Linked DNA regions of Homo sapiens. The protein of the gene in region 3 interacts with the protein of the main gene of each other region in a pairwise test. Each region holds a gene or a part of one and is shown on either strand. Other genes may lie near its edges.

What was found.
Region 1: the proteins of MS4A3 (region 3) and TM4SF18 interact in binary tests that used the Homo sapiens proteins (3 or more experiments, as listed by UniProt).
Region 2: the proteins of MS4A3 (region 3) and MS4A13 interact in binary tests that used the Homo sapiens proteins (3 or more experiments, as listed by UniProt).

Annotation. Positions count from the first base shown.
Region 1 is NC_000003.12:149,326,991-149,330,746, reverse strand, and holds part of TM4SF18 (transmembrane 4 L6 family member 18), read left to right. Parts: intron 1-327; coding exon 328-417; intron 418-3,756.
Region 2 is NC_000011.10:60,525,365-60,529,120, reverse strand, and holds part of MS4A13 (membrane-spanning 4-domains subfamily A member 13), read right to left. Parts: intron 1-3,756. UniProt on the Homo sapiens protein: May be involved in signal transduction as a component of a multimeric receptor complex.
Region 3 is NC_000011.10:60,055,106-60,058,861, forward strand, and holds the start of MS4A3 (membrane-spanning 4-domains subfamily A member 3), read left to right. Parts: upstream 1-1,559; 5' UTR 1,560-1,635; intron 1,636-3,756. UniProt on the Homo sapiens protein: Hematopoietic modulator for the G1-S cell cycle transition. Modulates the level of phosphorylation of cyclin-dependent kinase 2 (CDK2) through its direct binding to cyclin-dependent kinase inhibitor 3 (CDKN3/KAP).

The DNA.
Region 1 (3,756 bases), on a different chromosome or scaffold from region 3:
TGGTATTCTCCTGTCCATCCATTTACTTCTCCTTAATCATTAGCTTTTGATGGTTGCTAACCATGATAATAATAGCTAACATTTATCAGTCACTATGAATCAACCACTATACTCAAAATGTCACATATATTACCTCGTGACGATCTCTTGATACCATTTTATACAGAAGGTGTCTCAAATTCACACAGCTAGAAAGTGACAGAGCTTGGATTCAAATCCATATCTACCTGACCCCAGACTCTATGCTTGAAGACGCTGTCCTCTGATTATAAGCACAAATGTAAACTAGCATTTCATTGCTAACATTTTATGTCTTCCCTCCTATAGATGCTTATAGTAACAACAGTTCTTCTGGTACTGGAGAATAATAACAACTATAAATGTTGCCAGAGTGAAAACTGCAGCAAAAAATATGTGGTAAGAGCAACAGTTTTTTTGAGGATGGTTGAGTGGGCTCCAGCTTTCTTTCCTCTCACTCAGAAACACAAAAATATTGACAGTATTATACCCTCACTACTGTTGAGTACAGTACAGAGATCAAGAGTTTACTGCCAAGATCATCTTCCATTTTGCTTAGTCTTTCCTCCACTTTTGTTCTACTGATGCACTTTCAGAAAATCAGCATTTAAAGATACCTAAAATTAGGAAATAATACTTTTTTTTCCTAACTAAGTTTCCATTAGTCTATTTTTTCTTTACAAACTTTATTGAGGGCTAAATTACATATAATAAGTGGCATCCATTAAAATTATGCAATATCATGAGTTTTAACAGTTGACTACACTCATGAAACCACCATTGCAGTCAAGATAACAGAATATTTCTGCCAACCCCCAAAGATTAACCTTTGATTTACTTTTTGTCATTATAGATTAGTTTGTATTTTATATATGTGGAATCATACAATATTTGTCTTTTTTATCTGGGTTTTTTCATCCAGGATAATAATTTTTAGATTCATCCATATTGTTGGGTGTATGTGATGTGCATTTTCTAAGTTGGCACTTGAAAAATAATTAAAATAGTATCAGGGTGAATAATACAACCGCATTTTCTAAGCCAGTGCTCCTGCATTTCTACCATTCTCCTTCTCATCCTCTTCCTCCTCTTCATCGTTTATTCACACTTGCATAGCACTTTATAGTTCTTTCACATTTACTCAGTGAATTAAGTCATTATTGCTCCTATTTTATAGATGAAGCACTTGTGGCTCAAAGAGAACAAGTGATTATTAGCTAGGAGGAGTTTTATGATGATATCTGGTAGGCATTTTTTGCAGCAGTGCTTCTACCTGTTAGCTTCATATTGCAATCACCTGGGAGCTTGGAACAACACTAATGCCTAAATCCCATCCCCAGAGTCCCTGATTTAGTTAGTCTGAGGTACAACCTGGGCATGGATATGTTTTAAATCTCCCCAGGATATTTCAATGCGTAGTCAAGATTGTATGGCAAATTTTCTTTGACCAATGTCTTTTAAAAATTAAATTCGTTGCTTTATTTAGTACTGTGTCCCTTATGGAGAAGAATTGAAAATTTAAAATACACTCGTGTGTGTGTGTGTGTGTGTGTGTGTGTGTGTGTGTGTGTGACCAGTTGACTCAGTCATCCTCCAGTAGCTACTTGTAATATACTTATGGAAGAGATTTCAAAATTGCCTAGGGGAAATAATAAATTCAGGTATAGATTCAAGTTATGATACTCAGAGAATTTCTAGAAAACAAATATATGTGATATTAAGTGTAAAATAAAAATTCACATGTTCAATTTGCCTTAACTCACTATTAGCACTTCTAGCACAAATAGATGCTAGAAATAGTCTGAAAAGGGTCTTATAATCAGCATTAAATTAGATGACTAACATCTCATTGGGAACAGCAGGAGAAAGAAAGAGAGGATTCTCCGGGTTCCCTTTTTGGCCTTTTCAAGGTAAGTTCTAGAAGAGAAGTCCCAATTCAAATGCCCCCAGAAGCCACGTGTGTGACATAAATGAATTAAATGAGCCTGGTAGGCATCAGAGCACAATTTCCATCTAAGGAGGAGAAGGAGCTGCTACTGAAGTCCAGCCAGTTGTTGCCATGATCAAGTAGGGCAATAATTCTCAGTTTTCAGTAGAAAGTAAAAATATGGATTTTTATGTAAAACTTTTCAATTGTAAAATATTGGCAATTAATCTTCATTTAAACCAAACAAAGTACATATTGTGGGAAAAACTGAATCTGCATCAGTTTGTAACTTCCAAAATGTAATAAAAATTGATTCATTTCTTGGTTGTTATCTGCTATGGCCTGAATGTGTTCCTCCAAAATTCACATGGAAACCTAATTCTCACTGTGGCGATATTAAGAGGTGGGATGTTTTTGGAAGTGACTAAGTTATGATGGCTCTTCCCTCATGAATGAGAGTGGTGCCCTTATAAAAGGGGTTGAGGGGAGTACTCTTACCTCCCTTGCACCATGCGAGGACACATAGAAGGTGCCATTTATGAGGAATGAGCCCTCACCAGACACTGAATCTGCCAGTGATCTTGGACTTTCCAGCCTCCAGAAGTGTGAATAATAAAATTCTGTTATTAATTACTCAGTCTAAGGTATTTTTATTATAGCAGCAGGAACTAAGGCACTCTCCATTCCTGCATGGAGTCTGGTTTTCTGCCAAAATTCTTGGACAATTATTCCTGGAAAGCAAATATTGGCCAAATAAGGGCACTTGAAATAATAGCTAATATTTTATTATATTTTATTTTTGAAATTGCCCTGTCACATAGGTACCATTCCTGTCTACATCATCTACAGTTTACAGAAAAGAAAACTATGATTCAAATTCTTATTCCCACTTTATTTTGAGGCTTACCTTGATAGTGCAATGGTATCCACTCATTAGATTGTAGTGTGTGCGTGTGCATGTGTGTGTATGCTATGGCTGCCAGTTTCCCCCAATGAAGAAATTCTTCACTGATCTTCCCAGTGAATATTTTTTCCAGTTTTCCATAAAGAGGATATATTAATGTCATACTCAGTGAAATAATTTTAAACAAAGAAATGTTATTGAGATGATTTTTATTCCTAAAATCACAGGTTTGTTGGTCTTACTTTTTCTGGTCTCAGCTTTTGAATTTATTATCAATTGGTTACTGCATGTTACTATTCTGCTGCCTACTCTCACCCTGCAATCAACATTTCTAAAGCTAATTTTTCCCCCAAACCAAATAACCTTTCTTGGTATCCTTATTTCTGTCTCCTTTTTATCCAAGCCCCAGCTCTGGATTTTTTTTTTTTTTTCATCTCCAGCTACTCATTTCCTCCTTAATGTGTTTTCCTCCAATGTGTGTCTTTGTCACCTCAACTTGCATCTGTCTCCAAGCTGGATCCTTATCTTTGAGGTCTCTTACTTCCAGCTTGTGTGACCACTGCCAGAGCAATCTTCCAAAAGCACATTTTGGGCATATCACTTCCTGCTCAAAAACCAATTACAAGACTTGTTTAAAAAATAGTTTCTGGCCGGACACAGCGGCTCATGCCTGTAATCCCAGCACTTTGGGAGGCCAAGGCAGGTGGATCCCCTGAGGTCAGGAGTTTGAGAGCAGCCTGGCCAACATGGTGAAACCCCATATCTACTAAAAATACAAAAATGAGCTAGGCGTGGCGGCACGTGCCTGTAGTCCCAGCTACTCAGGAGGCTGAGGCAGGAGAATCGTTTGAACCCAGGAGGTGGAGGTTGCAGTGAGCCATGATCAGGCCCTGCACTCCCGCCTGGG
Region 2 (3,756 bases), 470 kb from region 3:
TTGCTTAGCATTCTTGTCTCACTTCTGACAGCTTTTACAGAGTCGCTGGCACAGCTCACTATCTAAACTCTCCAGTTAGTAAGATTTGACTTTCCTGTCTCTAATGATAAGATGGCCACCAACAGATTTATCAAGCAATCCTTTTCTATTAAAACAGCTATTATTAATCACAACCCTTCTTAAATTTACATACATGGTGATAAAACTCTCACATATATATTGCTCTAATATCATTTAAAATGATTAATACATTCAAAAAGAGTTCAAAGAACATTTAACTTGGAAGCATAAGGTGATTGTGACTGCTGGGATAAATAAAACAGATTCCCTTCTGTTGCTATCAGAAAGATATTTTCAACTACAAATCCGATTGGTTAGTTATGTGAATAATATTGGTACTCATCCTGAAAATGTGGGTTTTGTGCTGGCTGTGGAAAGACAAGAATGATACTCAGAACTAGAAAGAATGACATCATAATTCTCTCCCTTTCAATTCCTTCTCTAACTCTTCCTCCTCCTTCTTTGTTTGGTTTATTTAATATCTTTTATATTCAAGAAACTATCTGGTAGTAGGAATTAGATGATAGGAATGCAATGACACATAACTTCCTGATTTCTTAGAGTTTATAATGAAGTAGAAGAGACAGAAAGATAATATAAGGTACCATAAAAAATGGATAAAAACTTGCTCAATCATTATAGGGGACAGGAGGGACAGGAGGTTCACTCCAAGCTATTACTCTCTGGGAAGGCTTCATAAAGTGGTAGGACCTTTGAAATAAGGGTAGGACTGAGAAAAACGAAGGAAGGAAACAGCATTCTAGGCAACTTTAAATTTTTATTTGCTTGTTTCCTTGTAACCTATCTTGTTTCAGAAAGAGTTTAATAGCATAAATTAAAAGTGTGACAAAATAATTTAAAAATTGAGACATAAAATACAACCAGTAGAGTAAAGCTAAAATACATATTTGAACAACCTATGGTTTTTAATGTGAGAACAAAACTGAGTGTAAGCAATATAACATTTTGAGAAAATGAAAAACAGGTTTTAACTGAATTACAGTGTTCATTCATATATGATATAAACAGGAGGATAAGGAAAAGATGTAGAAAGTTTGAAATACCAAGGTAAATAATTTTGATTTACTTTTGTTGGCAGAAATGCACAATCATAATCATAACATTTTAGCTAGAAAGTACTTGGGACCTCTTAGCTGACAAGACTGTGAAAAGTCATTTTACCCATATTCCTTATTTTTTTTAATTTTTTAATTTAATTTATTTTGAGACTGAGTCTCGCTCTATCACCCAGGCTGGAGTGCAGTGGCGCAATCTCGGCTCACTGCAACCTCTGCCTCCTGGGTTCAAGCGATTCTCGTGCCTTAGCCTCCGGAGTAGCTGGGATTACAGGTGCCCACCGCCATGCCCAGCTAACTTTTGTATTTTTAGTGGAGACAGGGTTTCACCTTGTTGGCCAGGCTGGTCTCGAACATCTGATCTCAAGTGATCCGCCTGCCTTGGCCTTCCAAAGTGCTGGGATTACAGGCGTGAGCCACCGTGCCTGGCCCCATATTCTTTAATTTATATGAGAGTGCTATTCTAAAACTCCCTCCCTGACTGAAAGCGGCAAAAGGTTGGCCAGAGCAGCTCAAATATGAAAACTGAGGAAACGGAAACACACACACACACACACACACACACACACACACAGAGAGAGAGAGAGAGAGAGAGAGAGAGAGAGAGAGAGAGAGAGAGAGACGGAATGAATGAGTTCCTGGCAGATGATGTAAACTGTAAGCTTCTGGACCCAGCTTAAGTAAAGTAAGTGACCCTTTTTGCCTTAAGTCAACTTGGGTTGTATTTCCTATTACTTAAAACCAAGATAACCCTAATTAATAAATACTTAAATGAAGAATAAGCAATATTTGGTAATTATAAAGACAGTAGAAAGAGATGAGGTATTATGTCAAGGTTTTGTATGTGGGAGATTGAAACGAGGGAGTCTTGCAGTATAGTACTTCTGAGGAGGTAAGTAATTTCCATTTTATATCTGTTGAGTTTGATATAATAGTGATAGAAACATAGCCAAGTAGAAAAGTCAAACTAGCTTTTAAAACAACAGGCCGGGAGTTTGGAAGAAAGAACAGAGCAGTTAACTAGCAGGCATTTTCTTCATTTCTCACAAAAGAAAACTTGGAAACAGTTAAGTTAAGAAACTTTTCCAGGGGTTTACACACAGTGAGTACTGAGGATAGTATTTAAATAAGTGCACTCTGATCCTGGAATCTATACTATTAACCATTTTGCTATATGAGGAGTATATTTCAGATGCATGCACTTTTCTGACCCTGCCTGGGAACACTGAAAACTTGATGACTTTGTAGATTTAGCCAAGCCCCTTGCTTATGTGAGAAAAGTTGGCATGTAAAAGTCCTGTAAAATGTTGGCTGCCTTAGCAAGTGTAAGTATATAATTCTGTAATGACACTAGAAAAAGATGGTGGCTTTGAGATATAAGTCTAATATACAAGCTCATTTTGTGTAACTAATCACAGCAAACTTGTGCTGAACTTGTGATTTTGAGAGACTATAAAACTGGTCGTTATCATTGAGTTCAGATCAGATAAATACAGACTACAATAGTTTGTCACACTGACTGCAAAAGGCAATCCTTGGCAATTATGCCATATTAAACTGATAATTAAAAGTTTATGAATAAGAATGGTGACATATAACTTGAAACAATTATGCACTTAATAACTTAAGTCCTCCTTTCCTATTCTCTGCCCTCAAAATTAGAACTAAAGATTTCTAGATTGAATGTTCAGGGCAACTGGACAATTTTCTTATAATTTATAGGGAAAATCTGGTCCATGTTTGTTTACATAATCACTTGTTACAGATAATATATTTTGGGGTATTAGTGCATTTTTCTATTATTGTATCACTGTCCTCCAGGGTTTTGTTCTCCAGGTTTGGGTTCTTTCCTCTGATGTCCCCCTTAATAATATGTCACAGGTATGGAGTGAAAGTGTGTAGGGGAGGAGGAGGAAGTTTATCCTTCACCTGTAATGACGCTTCTACTCATTACTGAAATTGTTATTTGTTTTGTTCTGTTGGTCAGACAAGGTGTTTCACTCCAATTTGTCCTCACTTTAAATGTGAGATTTTGTATTAACTTTGCTAAGGTCTTTTGCCCCACTAATATTTTATGATTCTGAATTTAAAGCCAATATAATTAAAATAAAACTATTGTGTTATCAGTAAAAATCTTCACATTTACTGGGCAACTAAATGGAAACAAGTTAGGTTTATTTATATTTAGCATTTTTGGCCTTAAAGCAAAATTTATGTAAGATGCAAAGATAGGCTATGTATGAAAAATTCTATGTTAAGCCAGAAATTACTAGGTGTCTACAATTTGAACCATATGTGTCAGTAGCAGAATTCTTTTGTTTATTTGCAAAATGGTTTTATTGTCCAGGATTATACTTTTCTTGTATTAAGAGAATCATTAAGTGGCTCTGTGCCTAATACATAGACACTTGCCACTGAAGCTTTCAAATTTTTACTCACTTTAATTCAGCAAGTCAAGAATTCAAACATTCTCTTAATATTTACTAAAACTCACAGCCTAGAATTATTTTTGATTTAAAATTTTCAATCAAGAGCTCACAACTAAATCAAAGAATTTCATGAGGACGAATAAAAGCCTCATCTTACCTCCTAAGATTTCAAAATTATTAAAAAGAATAAT
Region 3 (3,756 bases):
TAGGGCTCAGGTGCCAGCTCTCTTAGCAGAAGCACCTGTGCAGAAATTTTCTGGCAACTGGGCCCCTGCTCATTTCATATTCACAATCTCTGCCCACACACTATGTTTTGGTCTTGGTAACTGGCCCTCTTTCTCTTTCCTGTGATCACGTCCCCACTGACGCTCCTGTTTGTAGGACTAGGACCTCGCTTTCCTTGCTGTGAACATTCTTCTCTGTCTCACAGACTCCCCTGGGGCATGGATCAGGGGCTGTGCCCTCATTCTTTCTCTCAGGCCTGGCCCTGTGACCTTCATAAGGATTGTGGTTTGAATCTTCACGTTACCTACTTCCTTACTCCTTGTCACTTGGCTCTGATCTTTCTATTGCCTATTTTAGGACATTTATTTAGGATAAGCATATAATTTGGCCACTTTTGAAACTGAAAGGAGGCCGGGCGCGATGGCTCATGCCTGTAATCCCAGCACTTTGGGAGGCTGAGGCAGGTGAATCACCGGAGGTCAGGAGTTCGAGACCAGCATGACCAATACGGTGAAACCCTGTCTCTACTAAAAATACAAAAATTAGCTGGGAGTGGTGGTGCATGCCTGTAGTTGCAGCTATTCAGGAGGCTGGAACAGGAGAATTGCTTGAACCCGGGAGGCGGAGGTTGCAGTAAGCCAAGATTGCACCATTGCATTCCAGCCTGGATGACAGAGTGAGACGCCATCTCAATAAACAAACGAAACAAACAAACAAATACAAAAAACCTAAAAAAACCAAAAAACAAAAAAGAAACTGAAAGGAGGGGTTTTAACAATCATATTAGGATAACAGGCACACTTCGGGCTTCACCATTGTACAAAACAGAGATTTTGCACAGGGCTTTTCCAGTTAAATTTTAGGAAAGCTGGGTAACATTTCTATACCATAGTTTTCTCTACCATAACATCGGGTTAATAGTAGTACCTGGGTCCTGGGTTATTGTGAGGATGAGATGAATTAACATATGTAAAGCATTCAGAACAATGACCTGTATGTAGTAACCATTTAATACATTTAAACAATAATTAGCATTATTATTATATCTGTGATATTGGGCAAAGTAATTAACCTCTCTAAGCATGTAAGAATTGAATGTCATCACGCATATAAGGTACATAGCACCGTTGCTGGCACATCATGTAAAATAAGTGCCTGAGTGACCACCTCCCTCCTCCAGATGCTTCTCTTACAGTGTGACTTTGTCTCTTCTTGCTATGCACCTAACACTGTTCTACCTCCAACCCACAACCTCTTCCCACTTGTCTACCCATATTGTTGCTTGTGTTTCCTGTTCCAGCAATGTGTTAAGCAACATCTGAAAGCCAGAAGACAGTTATCCCTCACACCAGTTTCCTAATCATCACTAAGCCCTGGGGAAACACAATGGATCAGCGAGGCCCCAAATGCAGATGTGATTAGCACACTGGTCAGTCAGCCCGCAAAACACTTTCACCAAGTCCTCTAAAGTGTTGCATAAGGCAAAGATAACGTTAAGTCTGTGGAGGCTTCCGTTATCGGGAAAAGATGCTGTAGTGATCTTTTCTGAGTGTCTCCTACTTGCGACAAGGTGGACTTGGGAGGAAAGCCGTCTGCCAAAGCCTGAAGCCTCCAAGGTATAGATTCCCTCTCCATAGACATTCCCCTTTCTTTTATATCTTTCGTTAAAATGCCTCCCAGTGGACTACTGGGGATGTCTGCAAAGGTCTCTGTTTGGTTGCTATGTAGAGGTTTGGAACATTTAACTGTGAACATGGCTTCTCTTTAGGATGTGATGATTCCTTTGGAGCCATGATAAAAAGTGTTAGACATAATAATACAGCAATTTCTTTGGGAAAATGTGGGTATGGATACACACACATGCACACGCACCTCTTAGGTACATTAAATCCCACTGGCTGCACCTGAGTTTGTCTGCCAGCTCTGATGATGAGGGGTGGTCTCGATATGCCTGAAGTATGGGGTCTGCAAAGTGCATTTTAGCATAGCTCAGGGGACAGTGGAGTGTAATGATAGCTTGAGGTTCTGATTTTTAGCTTCTCAAATTGCTGGCTGTGTGGGCTTGGGAAAGCTACTTAACTTCTTTGTTCCTCAGCTTCTTCATCTGTTAGATGGAAAGGATCATAGCAGTAGTACCCATTCATCTGATGTTGTGAGAACTAAATTAGTAAACATGGATAAAGCCCTTAGAACAAATGCCTGCCACATACTAAGAGCTGGAGAGATGAACTTAACTGGCAGTTTCCTAGAAAATCTACATTTCTCTGATTTTGTGTGTGTGTGTGTGTGTGTGAGAGAGAGACAGAGTCTCGCTCTGTCACCCAGGCTGGAGTGCAATGGCACGATTTCGGCTCACTGCAAACTCCGCCTCATGGGTTCAAACAATTCTCCTGCCTCAGCCTCCTGAGTAGCTGGGATTACAGGCGCGTGCTGTCACAACCAGCTAATTTTATGTGTTTTTAGTAGAAACAGGGTTTCACCATGTTAGCAAGGATGATCTCAATCTCCTGACCTTGAGATCCTCCCGCCTCTGCCTCCCAAAGTGCTGGGATTACAGGCATGAGCCACTGCACCCGGACCATTTCTCTGATTTTTTTAAAAATAAATAACTGATTTAACCAAATTTTAGAAAACATAGTTTGTTTCACCTGGAGGCTGAAAATTCTCCCTGATTATTTTGATTATTTGAAACAAATCAAGTTAAATAATATGGTTAGATATTTGCTCTCTTCAGAAATGCTCTTGGAGTTTCTTGAGATGAGAGGCTCCAGTGCTTGCAGAGGTATTTTCCATCATCATTTATCAGGATGGCTACCTTGGGCTGGACCAAAAGTCTGGTTACTGATTGAACATGTGTGTTAACTGAGTGCTTGCCATCTGATGATTCTGAGCTAGGCACTGGAGTTGCAGTGATGAGTAGACAACGAGGTAACAGACAAGTATCCAGGCAATTAAAGCTCAGGCTGATTAAGTGGTATGAGAAGGAAAGTTGAGGAAATTTTGAGAGCAACCCAAAGGGGTGCATGCTTCTTCCAGAGTTGGCCAGGACTAAAAACAGCATCCTGGAAGTATGACATGTGGGCTGAAAATCAGTCTGGAAGGGCCGGGCGCATTGATTCACGCCTGTAATCCCAGCACTTTGGGAGGCTGAGGTGGGTGGATCACCTAGGTCAAGAGTTCGAGACCAGCCTGGCCAACATGGTAAAACCCCATCTCTACTAAAAGTACAAAAATTAGCTGGGTGTGGTGGTGCACGCCTGTAATCCCAGCTACTTGGGAGGCTGAGGCAGGATCATAGCTTGAGCCCAGGAGGCGGAGGTTGCAGTGAGCTGAGATCGGGCCTCTGCACTCCAGCCTGGGAGACAGAGCAAAGCTCCAACTCAAAAAAAAAAAAAAAAAAAAAAAAAAAAAAAAAAAATTCAGTCTGGAAGGAGAGCAGAAATTATCCAGGTGAAGCTTGAGGGGACTTGTCTTTCAGGAATGGGGGATAGCACAGAGGATTGAAGACATTTGAGGGTTTAGAACTTCTGAAGGAAGACAAATCAAGAAAATAAGGCTGGATGGAGTTTTGAGATAGGGATGGGTGAGGGGTGAGGCAGGAGACGTAGGCGAGAGATTATCTGGTCATAAAGCAGCAACATTCTCCGTATTGCATGCATCTTAGTTCATTAGATATTTAATCCAAAATACACACAAATTTCCCAGTGGATAAATTTGAAGTCTTGGCTTTTTGGCTA